Regions from separate parts of the Homo sapiens genome. Here region 1 is linked to region 2. Evidence: fine-mapped expression QTL. A gene starts in region 2. The other region holds a variant in brackets. All regions are shown on one strand. Distances are from middle to middle.

Region 1 (8,331 bases), 240 kb before region 2:
GGCTTTCACCATGTTGCCCCGTCTGGTCTCGAGCTCCTGAGCTCAGGCAATCTGCCTGTCTTGGCCTCCAAAAGTGCTGGGACTGCAGCCGTGAGCTACCATGCCTGGCCTCAGCCTGATATATCTTGAAGCTCTGTTTTATTGGGGCTTTTTTGTTTTTGTTTTTTTGAGACACATTGTTGCTCTGTTGCCCAAGCTGGGGTGCAGTGGTGCTATCTTGGCTCACTACAGCCTTTGCCTCCTGGGTTCAACTGATTCTCATGACTCGGCCTCCTGAGTAGCTGGGATAACAGGCACATGCCACCACACCTGGCAGATTTTTGTATTTTTTAGTAGAGATGGGGTTTCACCATGTTGGCTAGGCTGATCTTGAACCCCTGGCCCCAAGTGACCTGCCTGCCTCTACCTCCTCCCAAAGTGCTGGGATTACAGGCATGAGCCACTGCACCTGGCCTCTGTTGTTTGATATGTACACATTTAGGATTGCTGTGTCTTAGGCTGGGCACGGTGGCTCATGCCTCTAATCCCAGCACTTTGGAAGATTGAGGCAGGTGGATCACTTGATGCCAGGAGTTCAAGACCAGCCTGGGCAACATGGTGAAAGTATCTTTACAAAAAAAATACAAAAATTAGTCAGGTGTGGTGGTGTGCATCTGTAGTCCCAGCTACTTAGGAGGCTGAGGTCAGAGGATCTTTTGAGCCTGGGAGGTTAAGGCTGCAGAGAGCCATGATCTGACCACTGCATTCCAGCCTGGGTGACAGAGCAAAACTATATTTTAAAAAATGGCTGTGCCCTCTTGGTGGGTTAACCCTTTATTAATTAAACAATGTTCCTCTCAATCTGCAGTAATTTTCATTGCTCTTAATTCATTTTATCTGGTATTAGCATGGCCAGTCCTGATTTCTTTTGAGTAATATGTGTATGATTTATCTTTTATTTTTTATTTTTTATTTTTTTGAGATGGTCTTTCACTCTTGTTGCCTAGGCTGGAGTGCAATGGCGTGATCTCGGCTCACTGCAGCCTCCGCCTCCTGGGTTCAAGCGATTCTCCTGCCTCAGTCTCCCGAGTAGCTGGGATTACAGGCAGGTGCCACCACGCCTGGCTAATTTTTTGTATTTTTAGTAGAGGTGGGGTTTCTCCACGTTGGCCAGGCTGGTCTCAAACTCCTGGCTTCAGATGATCCACCCACCTCAGCCTCCCAAAGTGCTGGGATTACATATGTGAGCCACCGCACCTGGCCTATCCTTTTACATTCAACTTACCTATGTCATTATATTTACATGTACATGTACATATACATGTTGTTTTTTATTTTTCTACCAGTCTTTTAATTGGTATGCCTAGATCATTTACATTTAATGTAATTTTTGATATATTAGGGCTAAGTCTGCCATTTTATGTTTCTTTTTGTTTGTTTCAGCTCTCATTTTCATTACTCTTTGACCTTTTTCCCCTTCCTGTGGATTACTTGAACATTTCTTTAAATTCCTTTTTGATTTATCTGTTATAAATTTTTATTTATTATGAATGTTTTTAGTGGTTGGTCTAGATATTGCATTATACATATGAAACCTATCACAATTACTGGTGTCAACATTTTATCAGTTTGAGTAAAGTATAGAAATCTTACCTCCATTTAGGTCCCTTAACATTCCCTCCCCCTTGTATACTATAATTATCTTAAATATTTCCTATCTATATATTGAGAACCATATCAGATAATATAATTTTTACTTCAGCCATCCAATATAATTTAGAAAACTCAAGATGAGAAGATTGACCTATTGTCATGTATTTATATTTTTATACTTCCTCTTCTTTCTTCATAATTTTTGTTTTGTTTGGTTTTTTGGTTTTTTTTTTTTTTGAGATGGAGTCTCACTCTGTTGCCCAGTGTTGGAGTGCAGTGATGTGATCTTGGTTCACTGCAACCTCTGCCTCCCAGGTTCAAGTGATTCTCCTGCCTCAGCCTCTCGAGTAGCTAAGACTACAGGCGTGCGGTACCATGCCTGGCTAATTTTTGTATTTTCAGTAGAGATGGTGTTTCGCCATGTTGGCCATGCTGGTCTTGAACTCCTGACCTCAAGTGATCTGCCTATCTCAGCCTCCCAAATTTTCTTCACAATGTTTTAAGCTTTGTTTCTTTCTTTTTTTTTTAAGAGTAGGTCTGGTGGAAGCAAATTATCTTAGTTTCCCTTATCTGAGAAGCTCTTGATTTCACCTTCATTCCTGAAGGATATTTTTGCTGGGTATGGGATTTAAAGTTGACGTTTGTCTGTTTGTTTGTTTGTTTGTTTGTTTGAGTACTTGGAAAATGTGCCATTCCCTGCTGGTCTCTATGGCTTCTTATAAGAAATCTACTGTCAATGGAATAATTGTTCCTTTATAGGTACTATGTTGTTTCTATTTGCTTCCAAGACTTTTTTCTTTGTATTTATTTTAGGAAGTTTGCTTATGATGTGTCTTGCAATAGATTTCTTTGAATTTATTCTACTTAGGGTTCACTCCATTTCTTGAATCTGTATGTTCATGTGCTCTAAATTTCCTTCTAAGCACAGCTTTAGCAACATCTTACAAATTTTGACATGTTCTGTTTTTATTTTCATTCAGCTCAAAGTACTTTTTGAATTTTCTTTTTACTCTTTGAAATGAAAATTACTTAAATGTGTGTTATTTAGTTTCCAAATACTAGGCTATCATCCAGATATCAGTAATTAGTTTCTAATTTAATTCCACTGTGCTCAAGGAACATACTTTGTATGACTTGAATCCTTTTAAATTTATTGGTACATTGTTTTGGATTTTTTTTTTTTTTTTTTTTTTTTGAAACAGAGTCTTGCTCTGTCACCCAGGCTGGAGTGCAGTGGCATGATATCAGCTCACTGCAACCTCTGCCTCCCGGTTTTAAGCAATTCTCATGCCTCAGCTTCCCAAGTAGATGGGACTACAGGTGTGCACCACTACACCTGGCTAATTTTTGTATTTTTAGTAGAGATAGGGTTTTGCCATGTTGGGCAGGCTGGTGTCAAACTCCTGACCTCAAGTGATCTACCTGTCTCAGCCTCCCAAAGTACTGGGATTAGACATGAGCCACAGTGCCCAGCCTGCTTCTTGTGTTTTGAAGCTCTGTTATCATATGTATAAATGCTTAGAATTGTTAGGTCATCTTAATAAATTGGCCCCTTTTTCACTGTCAAATGACATTATTTATCCCTATAATATTCTTTCCTCTGAAGTCTACTTTTCTTTTTTTCTTTTTTTTTTTGAGATGGAGTCTCGCTCTGTCAACCAGCCTGGAGTGCAGTGACGTGATCTTGGCTCACTGCAACCTCCACCTCCCGGGTTCAAGCGATTCTCCTGCCTCAGCCTTCTGAGTAGCTGGGACTACAGGTGCGCGCCACCACACCCAGCTAATTTTTATATTTTTAGTAGAGATGGAGTTTCACCATGTTGGTCAGGCTGATCTCGAGCTCCTGACCTCGTGACCTGCCCACCTTGGCCTCCCAAAGTGCTGGAATTACA[G/A]GCGTGAGCCACCACTGCCGGCCTACTTTTCTTTCTTAAAAAAAAAAAAATCTGTTTTTATAGTGACAGTGTCTCACTATGTTGCCCAAGATGGTCTCAAACTTAGCTCACACATTCCTCCTGCCTCGGCCTCCCAAAGTGCTGGGATTACAGGCGTGAGCCACCATTTCCAGCCCTGAAGTCTGCTTTTGTGATATTAACATAGCCACTCCAGCTTTCTCTAGGTTAGTGTTAGCATGGTATAGTTTTAAAAATCCTTTTACTTATAATTTATTTGTTTCTTTTAAAGTGGGTTTCTTGTAGAAAGCACATAGCTGGACTTTTTTCTTTTATCCAATCTGACAATCTTTGCCTTTTAATTTTGTTGTTTAGACCATTTATATTTAATATCATTATTGACATTGTCAGGTTTAAATATTACATTTTGCTACTTGTTTTCTATTTGTCTCATCTGTTCCTTGTTCTCCTTTCCTCTCTTTCTTCTTTGGGTTTTTTTTTTTTTTTTTTTTTTTCTGAGACAGAGTCTTGCTCTGTCGCCCAGGCTGGAGTGCAGTGGCATGATCTTGGCTCACTGCAACCTCTGCCTCCTGGGTTCACACCATTCTCCTGCCTCAGCCTCCCGAGTAGCTGGGACTACAGGTGCCCACCACCACACCCAGCTAATTTTTTATATTTTTAGTAGAGACGGGGTTTCACTGTGTTAGCCAGGATGGTCTTGATCTTCTGACCTTATGATCTGCCCACCTCGGCCTCCCAAAGTGCTGGGATTGTAGGCATGAACCACTGCACCCAGCTCTTCTTTGGGTTTAACTCAGTATTTTTTTATAATTCTATCTTCTGTTTTTGTTTTGTTTTGTTTTGTTTTTCCCTTTCTGTAACAGGGTCTTGCTCTGTCACCCAGTGTGGAGTGCATTTTGCAATTATGACTCACTGCAGTCTCAAACTCCTGGGCTCAAGCAATCTTCCCACCTTGGCCTCCCAAGTAGCTGGGACTACAGGTATGTGCCGCTACATCTGGCTTTTTTTTTTTTTTTTTAGACATGGTCTTGCTCTATCACCCAGGCTGGAGTGCAGTGGTGCAATCATGGCTCACTGCAGTCTCCACCTCCCACATCCAAGTGATCCTCCCACCTTCAAGTAGCTGAGACCACAGGTTTGTGCCATCACACCTGGCTAATTTTTTATTTTTTATAGAGATGGAGGCTCCGTATGTTGCCCAGGCTGGTCTTGAACTTCTGGGCTCACATAATCCTTCTGCCTCAGCTTCTCAAAGTCCTGAGATTACAGATGTGAGCCACTGCACCCAGCCCCTGAATAACATTTTTTATTTTTTGTAGAGATGGCATCTCGCTATGTTGCTCAGGCTAATCTCAAACTCCTGGCTTCAAGTGATCCTCCTGCCTCAGCCTCAAAAGTGCTGAGATTACAGATATAAGCCACTGTGCCACACCTGCTTTGTTATTTTAGTGTTGCTTTAGGGTTTATAGTAATCATCTCTAATTTATTACAGACTACCTTCAGGTGCTATTTACAGTGTAAGAAACCATAGTATACTTCCATTTTCTCCCTCCCAGCCTTTGTGCTATTGTTACATTTTACACTTACATATGTTATAAACTACATTATTTTTGCCTTAAATAGTCAATAGTCAATTATCTCTTTTAAAAATGTATATTTAAGGGGCCGGGCACGGTGGCTCATGCCTATAATCCCAGCACTTTGGGAGGCCGAGGCAGGCGGATCACCTGAGGTCAGGAGTTTGAGACCATCCTGGCCAACATGGTGAAACCTTGTCTCTACTAAAAATATTTTAAAAATTAGCCAGACGTAATGGTGGGCGCCTGTAATCCCAGCTACTCGGGAGGCTGAGGCAGAATTGCTTGAACCCAGGAGACGGAGGTTGCAGTGAGCCGATACTGTGCCACTGCACTCCAGCCTGAGCTACAGAGTGAGACTCCATCTCAAAAGAAAACACACACACACACACACACACACACACACACACATAAACAAAAATGTATATTTACCTATTTACTATTTCCTATGGTCTTCATTTCTTTATGTACATCCAGATTTTCAATGGAAGTCATTTTCCTCTGTCTACAGACTTTTATTAACATTTCTTAAGCCAGGCGCGGTGGCTGATGCCTGTAATCCCAGCACTTTGGGAGGCCGAGGCGGGCGGATCACCTGAGGTCAGGAGTTTGAGACCATCCTGGCCAACATGGTGAAACCTTGTCTCTACTAAAAATATTTTAAAAATTAGCCAGACGTAATGGTGGGCGCCTGTAATCCCAGCTACTCGGGAGGCTGAGGCAGAATTGCTTGAACCCAGGAGACGGAGGTTGCAGTGAGCCGATACTGTGCCACTGCACTCCAGCCTGAGCTACAGAGTGAGACTCCATCTCAAAAGAAAACACACACACACACACACAAATAAACAAAAATGTATATTTACCTATTTACTATTTCCTATGGTCTTCATTTCTTTATGTACATCCAGATTTTCAATGGAAGTCATTTTCCTCTGTCTACAGACTTTTATTAACATTTCTTAGGCCAGGTGCAGTGGCTCATGCCTGTAATCCCAGCACTTTGGGAGGCCAAGGTGAGTGGATCAACTGAGCTCAAGAGTTTCAGACCAGCCTGGGCAACATGGTAAAACCCTGTCTCTACAAAAAGTACAACAATAAGCTGGGTGTGGTGGTACGTGCCTGTAGTCCCAGCTACTCAGGAGGCTGAGGCAGGAGGATGGCTTCAGCCTGGGAGGCAGAGGTTGCAGTGAGCTGAGATTGGGCCACTGCACTCCAGCCTCAGAGACAGAGCAAGACCCTCCCCCTGAAAAAAGAAACAAAAAACATTTCTTATACTGCAAGTCTGCCAGTGATGAATCCTTTGAGATTTTGAATGTCTTCTTTTTATTTTGGGGGGGCGGGTAGAATTCACATAACATTCACTATTTTAACCATTTTGAAGTGTACAACTCAGTATCTTTCAGTACATTTACAGTTTTGTGCAACTGTCACCAATAATTCCAGAACATTTTCTTCACCCCAAAAAGAAACCCCATACCCATTTTGTCTAAAGACCTTTCACTTACTTCCTGGGTTCTTTTTTGTCCCATTCAGCTACTGGCTCTCCATGTATGTAAAAGAGACCTCTTGGGACTAAGGTTGGGACTCCAGGAAACTAATTGCTTCCCTCCTCCTTAACTTCCACCACCCAGGGTCATAGATCAAATAAAGTTGTTTTTACTGCAGCTGCTGCTGACGGAGCTTAAGAGAATGAGACACATACTATAATACATTGGTTCAACCACCAAAATGCATCCCCTCCTCCTTTTTTTCTTTTTCTTTTTTTTTTCTTTTCCTTTTTTGAGATAGGATCTCCTTCTGTCACCTAGGATGAAGTGCGGTGGTGCGATTACAGCTCACCGTAGCCTCGACCTCTGGAGCTCAAGTGATCCTCCCACCTCAGCTTCCCAAGGAGCTGGGACTACAGGAATGCACCATCATGCTCAGCTACTTTGAAAGTTTTTGTAGAGACAAGGTCTCACTATGCTGTCCAGGCTGGTCTCAATCCCCTGGGCCCAAGTGATCCTCCTGCTTTGGACTCCCAAAGGCATAAGCCACTGTGCCTGGCCTGACCTAGACTCTTAAAATAGCTGGCTCTCTAGGGTTCTAGGGTTCCTCCCTCTAATCTCTTCTTCCTTTAGTTCCTTAGTTCAAGTTCATTTTCTATTCTGTCTGCAGAAATTCTTTTTTTTTTTTTTGTTTGGAGACAGTCTTGCTCTGTCACCCAGGCTGGAGTGCGGTGGCATGATCTTGGCTCACTGAAACTCCGCCTCCCAGGTTCAATCAATTCTTGTGCCTCAGCGCCTCCCAAGTAGATGGGATTACACCTGGCTAATTTTTCTTTCTTTCTTTCTTTCCTTTTTTTTTTTTTTTTTTTTTTTTTGAGACAGAGTTTTACTCTTGTCGCCCAGGCTGGAGTGCAATGGCATGATCTCGACTCACTGCAACCTCCACCTCCCAGGTACAAGCAATTCTCCTGCCTCAGCCTCCGGAGTAGCTGAGATTACAGGCCACCACGCCTGGCTAATTTTTATATTTTTAGTAAAGACAGGGTTTCACCATGTTGGCGAGGCTGGTCTTGAATTCCTGACCTCAGGTGATCCACCCGCCTTAGCCTTCCAAAGTGCTGGAATTAGAGGCATGAGCCACCACGCCAGGCCTAATTTTTGTATTTTTAGTAGAGATGGAGTTTCACCATGTTGTCCAGGCTGGTCTCAAACGCCTAGCCTCAAGTGATCTGCCTGCCATGGCCTCCCAAAGTGCTAGGATTATAGGCGTGAGTCACTAAGCCCAGCCTCTGCAAAAATTCTTTTTTTTTTTTTTGAGACAGAGTGTCCATTTTTCTGTTGCCCAGGCTGGAGTACAGTGGCGCAATCTTGGCTCACTGCAGCCTCCACCTCCCGGCTTCAAGCAATTTTCCTGCCTCAGCCTCCCGAGTAGCTGGGATTACAGGTGTGCACCACCACACTCAGCTAATTTTTTATATTTTTAGTAGAGATGGGATTTCACCATGTTGGCCAGGCTGGTCTCTAACTCCTGACCTCAGGTGATCCACCCACCTTGGCCTCCCAAAGTGCTGGATTACAGGCGTGAGCCACCATTCCCAGCCCCCCTTGACTATTTTCAGTCACCCACACAGAGCAGGCCTTTTCATGCCCCAAGCTGTGGATCATGCCAGTCTCTTTATTGGAGGGTTCTATCCAACCACTAGCCATCCTTCCAGAATCAGCTCA
Region 2 (8,331 bases):
GAGCCACCGTGTCTGGCCTTTTTTTTTTTTTTTGAGACAGAACCTTGCTCTGTCCCCCAGGCTGGAGTACAGTGGCATGATCTCTCGGCTCACTGCAACCTCAGACTCCCGGGTTCCAGCGATTCTCCTGCCTCAGCCTCCTGGGTAGCTGGGATTATAGGTGCGTGCCACCATGCCCGCCTAGTTTTTATATTACTAATAGAGATGGGGTTTTACCATGTTGGCCAGGCCGGTCTCGAACTCCCGAGCTAAGGTGATCCGCCCGCCTTGGTCTCCCAAAATGCTGGGATTACAGGCGTGAGCCACCATACCTGGCCAGGCCACGCTCTTTAGAGTGGTACCTCTTCTTCTCCCATAGCCTCAGTCCTCAAGGGAATCCTCCCCTGGTCATGGATGCCTCTTGCTTTCCATTTCACCCTAGTACTGCTGAAAGTATTGACCCACAAGGAAACAATCCCAGGAGGTTACGAGACTTGTACCAGAACACACAACCCACACGTCTCTTCCAAAATGAAAATTCAGGTTTCCCGCCTCATCCCTTTTCCTCTGCCCTCCGGATGGCACTTTAGCCTCTGGAAGAGCGAGTCCTTCAGATTCTACCCCCATAGCTCTGACCTTCTCAGTCTCCTGCCGACAACCTGCAGGACAGTAAGCCTCCTGCTAGCTCTGCTTATCTGTCCAGTCTTTCTGGCCCACCCCATCCCCCTCTCCACTCTAAAGGAGTTCTGGTCCCCCTTGCCTGCCTCACCAAGGGTGGTGAGAACATGTCTGAGCTCTGCTCCCATGACTTTGCCGTTCCCCTCCTTGTCAAACACACGAAACCCCTCCAAGTAGTCCTCATATGTGCCTTGGCCTCGGTTCTTGGCCACTGCCTGGAGCATGGGCAGGAAAGTCTCAAAGTCCACACGCCGCGACTTCAGCTCTGGAGGTTGGAGAGAGGTAAAGGAGAGGTCATTGTAGTATTACATAGGACCCAGCTCCCAACCCTACCACAATGCTTTCATCCTATTCAGCATTTAGGATATTTTCCTGCTTCTGTGTTTGACAGTTTTTGAAGTCCTGAGATCCACCTCATTCTTTTTGTTACCAACATCCAACTTTTGAAAACTAAAAACCCAAATTGTTCCCAAGGGTCCCCTCACCATCACTCTTGGGGTTCCCCAGGACCTTGAGCACCTCGGCGTTGGTGGGGTTCTGGCCCAGGGCCCTCATCACGTCCCCACACTGGCTGTACAGGATCTTGCCATCCCCCACTCGGTCAAACAGCTCGAAGGCCTCCTTGAACTCTAAAGTATAAGGAAGGGTCAGTGTAGACACTGACTAGGGTTCCCATCACCCCCAGACAGAAGGGAATTTCAGAAACTATGTGAACAGAACAAGGGAGGAAAAGAGGACTAGTATGGGAGGTTTCAAGGTCAGGACTGGGGTTAGGGGAATAGAAAGAGAATCTGACCAGGGGATTGGGGATGGGACAGTGGCCTTAGATGAGCTTCTCCTCACCCTCCAGCTGGTCCTTGTTAAACTCGATCTGTGGAAGAAAAAAGCAGGTGGGGAGAGATGAGAGTTTATTCAATCCCTCTCCCGCACTCCTCCCAACCAACTGGCAGCCACTTCTGAGGAGGGGCCCAAAGGGACCAGGCTGGAAGCCCAGCCACCTCAGTCCCATTCCCAGCTCTGGGCCTTGGGAGAATCCCAAGAAGAGGAATTACAGTGGGGAGGGTTTCCTGGGAACAGGGTTAATCCCATGCCACCTGTTTCCCTCCCTCCATTGCCCTGAGCCCTGCATCCCACACATAACTGGGGGCTGAACAAAGGCTAAATTTACCCCTGGCCCCCAGCTGTGATTGTCTAACAAGTCTGTCCTCTTCAGCCTCCCCTCCTGGAGTTCAGAGCTGCAGGCCTTTTGAATTGAACCACCAGCCAGGGGCAGGCAACAGCTCTCTTCCCTTCACCTTGAAACTGTTCTCAGAACCCAGATGTTCCCCATCTAAGAGTCCCTGCCTCCAGCAGGGGGTAAGTGAGTGTGTATGTGCTGTACACACATGATTATAGGTTAGAGGGAGAGAACAGCAAAGACAACAGCAGAGTCATAAGACTGGATGCTTCCAAATGGGGGACTAAGGGAAAGCCCCAATCTCATTCCAGGGCTCACTGATTCCCTACCTTCTAGATACCCCCTAATCCCCTAGGCTGTATCCCACCCTCAAACCACCCCCTCCAATTCTATCTTCACTTTCCAGAGACTCACCACCACTTTGGAGAGATCGACTGGAGGCTCCTGGGTTTTCTGAGGGGCCTGGGGGACAGCTGGCTCAGCTTTGGTCTTGGCTGGAGGAGCCCCTGCTGCTGCTGGCTTAGCAGCAGGTTTGGAGATGGAGGGCCCTGCTGGTTTCTTCACGGGAACATCCTTCTTGGGAGGCATGATGTCCGGTGGCCAAAGGACAGTGTGCGGATGGGGGCACCCATCTCTGTTTAAATAGCCAGGGAGTCTGGGATGTCAAGGGGCGGGGGCAGGGGCAGGGAGCCAGTTGGCTGTGGCAAAGATGAGGTAGAGGAGAGATATAACCGCCTGCCCTCACTCCCCTGGCCTCCTATGGTTCAGGACTCCTGCCCCAAGGTCTTCTTCCCTCTGTCCCCTTATCCCCAAAGGCTGACCAGAAAAGAACAATGTTTCCTTTAGGGGTAGGGGAGGAAGCCAGAGACTGCCCAGAATGAGGTAGTTAACCTCCAGGGTGAGGATAGGATGCTTGCCAGTGGCACTGAGATGGGGGTGGTGAGGCAAAGCAGGTGATCCAGCAGCTTTAGTCTTCTTGAAGGGTGGGGTGAGGGGTAGCAGCCAGGGAGGCTTGTGTGAACTGGAACAAGTTAAAGTGTGGTCTGGGAGCAATGACAAAAACAAGAAGCCCATCTGCCCAGCCCCTCCACTCCCTTCTGACCATGGCTTTGTAAAGAGCAGGGGTAGTTAACCTTAGAGTCTAATGATCCCTAATACTTGTAGTTCCTGAGCCCCCACCCAGCCAAGAACTGGAACTATTCACAGTATAAAGGAAGAATAGTCATAAAAACAGGAGTATGACATCCCTCATTGTCTCCTGTGCCCAGTGTTGTTTTAGGGGCAGGAGTGGGGGCAAAGATCAGGTTTAACATCTGCTACCCATTCTTCCATGGAAGAAACCTTCCACAAGCCCACGGTCATTCAAGACAAACAAAAGGTAGGGTGCTTGCTGAACCTGTGGGGACCCTTTGGTGGCACCTGAGGAGAAGGGCAGGCTCTGGGAGACGGCTTAAATTCCCTAATCCAAGAGGATGTGGGCGCTCCTATGGCTCCATGAGTATTCACCCCACAACCAGGGGTATAATAAAAATCCTGACTCAGGGGCCAGGTCACAAACCTTGCCAGGGGCGCTGGGAGAGAGTCCAAGTTGGGGGGCGTTTGGGAGTGGGGAGGGATTGCAGGCTACTTTTGTTCTGGGGTAAATTAGGAAAGGATTTAGGTAGCATTCTGAGGAAGATAGCAGTGATTCCACTTAGGCCCCGGGGTTGATGCTGGGTCTCCCATTCGCAAAACAGCGTCTGAATCTCATGACTGCAAATTGTCCCATTTTTACAAAATACATCACACACACACGACACACACACACACACACACACTCACGCACCCCCACTAAATCTTAAAGAAAATGGCCCTCCTCAGCCCCCAAAAACTCACCCTGCGGGGTCCGTGTCTGGGGCTGGGGAGGGGGCGGGGCATAGCGCGGCCCCCAGCCCTGAAGGGTTAATTCCGGTGGCCGCGGAGCATGCCGGGAGTCGTAGTTCCCCGCGGGCTCACGGGATGCGCCGCGCTCTAGATTGCAGTTGACGCGAGGGCGGTGGCTTCCGGCCCATGGCGGTGGTTGGTGACTCAGTGTCCTTCCAGCGCGCTTTATGTCCCGGAACTGAAAGGCAATGAACAATTTCCAATCCACCCCAACCCTAAAAACCCTGCGGGGCCCCTAGGGTATCCCTCCTACTTAACCCTGGCGGGCTCCTAGTCTCGGGAGGTGGAGGGGGCGGGGCGGCTGTTTTCCTGGACCTACTGCTGAAAGAACTCAGAACCTGGGGAAAGATTGAGGCTGCAGCAGGCAGCGTGGAGGTCAGATAGCTGGAAGCACTTAACGGCCCCGGGGAGAACCGCTGCACTCTCTTTTGCTTCCTCTCGCGGTTTGGTAGAAAAAAAAGAGGCCTCAGAGTAGTTTGTTTTTAATGAGCTGGTTGCTGAAGTAAATGTTAAAATTTGCAATTAAGCCCAGTCACCTGCCCCAGCCTTCTCTGATCGAGGTTTCCATCCTGCGGCAGCATATGCGCCATCCTCCTCGATCTTCACAGGTCTCTGAGCGGAGGGCTGGGCTTTCCAGCCCTACTTTCTGAAACTCTTATGGTCAGCATTGGAGTTCACTGGTTCCCCTAGGCGTTGATCAGAGGATGGGAACCAGCCCGGCCGGGCCCACCTTCACTCACTGGATCAGTAAATACCCTGGCGGTGCACCTGGTGTTGGAAGCTGGTGCTGCACAGGCGTGTGAGGATTAGATCAGAGCAGAAAACTCGGGCGATGGCAGGGTGGTGAGGCACAGGTGAACTTTATGGGCAGTAAGTGAGGTTCACTGGTTGGGGAAAGTTTATTGGAAAGGTAGAAATGAATTGTACGACAGAAATAACGATAATAGTAAGTTAGCAACCATTTCTGGAGGCCGCCATAGATCTCGTACCGGTGAAGGGGCTAAATTATCTCAGAGGGTGCTCAAGTGGATGGGGTTCAGACAGCCTACTCAGATTTAAATCCTGGTTCTACCAGGTCCTAGTTAGTGACCCTCAGCAGGTTTAGTTATCTCTCCTGGGCCTCAGTTCCTCATCTGTAAAATAATGATAATGGTACCTACCTCATAGGGCTCTTCGGAGGATTCGAAGTGTTATTATTGGTAAAATAGGGCCGGGCTTGGTGGCTCACACCTCCCAGCACTTTGGGAGGCGAGGCAGGTGGGTCACCTGAGGTCAGGAGTTCGAGACCAGCCTGGCCAACATGGTGAAACCCTGTCACTACTAAAAATACAAAAAAAAAAAAAAAAAAAAAAAAAAAAAAAAATAGCTGGGCCTGGTGGCGGGCGCCTGTAATCTCAGTTACTTGGGAGGCTGAGGTCGGAGAATCACTTGAACCCGGCAGGTTGCAGTGAGCCGAGATCGCACCACTGCACTCCAGCCTGGGTGACAGAGTGAGACTCCAACTCAAAAAAAAAAAAAAGTGTAAAATAGAATAGGCCTGGCACAGCATAAGTGCTGTATAAGTTTTTGTTAAATAACTTTCCTTTAATCTTCCCAAGGTATGAGGTCGCTGATATTTTCCCCATTTTACATCAATGAAGTAAGGATCAATAGGTGTTGTGAAGAGACGGAGAGGAAGAAGGAATACATTTTTAAGTGGTTATAAGACTGGGAAAGGGCCACATTATAGATGCCTTTGTGTGGCTTTCATTACTTTTGCAGACATTGATTTCAAAATATGGCTCTTGTAATTTTTTTTCTTTCCTTTTCCCATTTTTGGCATTTTGCCAAGTATGAGTGGTTATGGCATCATCTGACTTTCTAGCATTTTCTATAGAGAAGTAGTACAGGGAAAAAACGTTAAGACCCTTGCAGAGATGGGAAGGCTATCCTTCATTTTCTGTGCCATCCCTGTCTTGATCATAAATAACAGGAACTGGACGAAACATGGTCTTAACTGGGCATAGGGTGATTATATATGTGAATTATCTGTGAGAAATGCCTGTCTCTCCTCTCTCCTCTCCCTGCTTAGCATGTGATTTGTATATTCTTATTTTTCTTTGGTTTTGTTTTTTTCTAGAAATGAGGTCTCACTGTGTTACCCAGTCTCAAACTGAGCTCAAGTGATCTTCCCATCTCAGGTGCCTCCCAAAGTGCTGGGATTATAGGTATGACCTACCTTGACTGGCCTGTATATTCTTAGAGATTGCATTTTGTGGGCAGGGAGGGAGGTGAGTCCGAAGCTTGCTTGCCTTCCCTAGGCATGCCGTCCTCCAGGAACCTCCACATGTTCAGCTGTCCAGAGTGGCCCATTAGATTGAAAGAATATGGAAAGCCATTGGGGAGCTGTTCCGCAGTGCACAGGTCTATGCACACTTACCCCCAAAGTCCAAGGAAGCTAAGAGGTTGAGGAAGGAGGCTGACAAATCCAGTTTCTTAGAAATATTTAATAGGAATTTATGAACAGAAGCCATGTCTGTGTCTTGGGTAGTGGTGAGACACGATGGTGGATCCCCAGGACATCATCCCCTGGAGTAAGTCCTGACCCCAGGACTTACCACAGGGAAGGAACCTCTAGGACAATTGAAGTCTACCCTGCAGGGAAAGGCAAGAATACTCAGTAAGCCAGGCTTTATGATCAAGATTGTTTTGATCTAAGGAGAAATTATGGTAAGTACATGCTCTTACACAAAGAACAGTAGATAAAATAGAAATCTTAGAGGCATTCCCAAAACTGGGGTTAATCAGACATGAACATTCCCAGCACTTTGGGAGTCCAAAGTGGGAAGATCACTTGAGCCCAGAAGTTCAAGACCAGCCATGGCAACATAGCAAGAGACCCCAACTCTACAAAAAAAATTCAAAAATTAGCCAGGCATGGTGGCACGTGTGCCTCTGATCCCAGCTATTCAGGAGCCTGAGGTGGGAGGATCACTTGGGCCCAGTAGGTCAAGGCTGCAGTGAGCCATGTTTGTGCCACTGCCCTCCAGCCTGGGCAACAGAGTGAGACCCTGTCCTTAAAAAATTTTTTAAAAAAAGCAGGCCGGGCGTAGTGGCTCATTCCTGTAATCCCAACACTTTGGGAGGCCAAGGAAGGTGGATCACCTGAGGTCAGGAGTTTGAGACCAGCGTGGCCAACATGGTGAAACCCTGTCTCTACTAAAAATACAAAAATTAGCCAGGCGTGGTGGCAGGCGCCTGCAATCTCAGCTACTTGGGAGCCTGAGGCATGAGAATCCCAGGAGGCGGAGGTTGCAGTGAGCTGAGATTGTGCCACTGCACTCCAGCATGGGCAACAGAGGGTGACTCCATCTAAAAAAAAAAAGAGAAAGGCTGAGCGCCGTGGCTCATGCCTGTAATCCCAGCACTTTGGGAGGCCGAGGTGGGCGGATCATCTGAGGTCGGGAGTTCGAGACAAGCCTGACCAACATGGAGAAACCCTGTCTCTACTAAAAATACAAAATTAGCCAGACGTGGTGGTGTATGCCTGTAATCCCAGCTACTCAGGAAGGCTGAAGCAGGAGATTCGCTTGAACCCGGGAGGTGGAGGTTGTGGTGAGCCGAGATCATGCCATTACACTCCAGCCTGGGCAACAAGAGTGAAATTCTGTACCCCCCTAAAAAAAAAAAAAAAAAAAAAAAGAAAGGTGGAATGGGTGGGAAGTGTTATGTGGAAATAGGCTCCCAGAGAGCACAGTGGAAAAGGTTGAGAGGAAGAGAAGCAGAAGGAGATTGTATTAGGGCCCTTTAGCTGCTCTCTTCAAGCATGTTTATTCAGTATACGTTCCTTTTTGTGTTTTGTTTGGGAGACAGGAGTCTTGCTCTGTGGCCCAGGCTGGAGTGCAGTGGTGCATCTTAGCTCACTGCAACCTCCACCTCCTGGTTTCAAGTGATTCTCATGCCTCAGCCTCCCAAGTAGCTGGGATTACAGGTGTGTGCCACCATACCTGGCTAATTTTTTTTTTGTATTGTTAGTAGGGATAAGGTTTTGCCATGTTGGCCAGGGTGGTCTCGAACTCCTGACAGGTGAGCCACCGCCTTGGCCTCCCAAAGTGCTGGAATTATAGGCATGAGCCATTGCGCCCGGCCTCTGTATACATTTCCTTTCCTCTCCCCCGAGAAACAGGGGCTTGCTCTGTTGCCCAGGCTCTGGATGCAGTGGCACAATCATAGCTCACTGCAACCTCAAATTCGTGCGCCACCGTACCTGGCTATTTCTTATATTTAGTTGTTATAGTTTTTGTTTGTTTGTTTGTTTTTTGAGATGGAGTCTCACTCTTGTCACCCAGGCTGGAGTGCAGTGGTGCAATCTTGGCTCACTGCAAGCTCCGCCTCCCGGGTTCATGCCATTCTCCTGCCTCAGCCTCCCAAGAAGCTGGGACTACAGGCGTCCCACACCCAGCTAATTTTTTGTATTTTTTAGTAGAGACAGGGTTTCACTGTGTTAGCCAGGATGGTCTCAATCTCCTGACCTCGTGATCTGCCCGCCTCGGCCTCCCAAAGTGCTGGGATTACAGGTGTGAGCCACCGCGCCC

Evidence for each region. PIP is the estimated chance that this variant, and not a neighbour inherited with it, causes the effect.
Region 1: its variant is the best candidate, but not a certain one, in a credible set for the expression of MYL6B in whole blood (TOPMed, PIP 0.55).

Annotation. Positions count from the first base shown.
Region 1 is chr12:56,388,071-56,396,401 of GRCh38, reverse strand. No RefSeq gene overlaps it. Among named protein-coding and RNA genes, the nearest start is that of APOF, 29 kb to the right of the region's middle. The variant G/A (reference allele first, on the strand shown) is at 3,525.
Region 2 is chr12:56,148,010-56,156,340 of GRCh38, reverse strand. MYL6B (myosin light chain 6B) reads right to left here and starts at 3,754. Exons shown (of 8, transcript NM_002475.5): 1 at 3,710-3,754; 2 at 2,249-2,468; 3 at 1,501-1,528; 4 at 1,143-1,286; 5 at 749-922. The coding sequence starts at 2,422. It overlaps LOC124902942, which reads right to left and starts at 4,514. Exons shown (of 3, transcript XM_047429954.1): 1 at 4,294-4,514; 2 at 3,710-3,935; 3 at 2,444-2,532. The coding sequence starts at 4,347. The coding sequence ends at 2,498. MYL6B-AS1 (MYL6B antisense RNA 1) reads left to right here. Exons shown (of 3, transcript NR_186043.1): 3 at 5,356-5,545. LOC124902943 (a long non-coding RNA gene) reads left to right here and starts at 2,468. Exons shown (of 2, transcript XR_007063328.1): 1 at 2,468-3,212. RefSeq lists an enhancer at 4,601-4,680.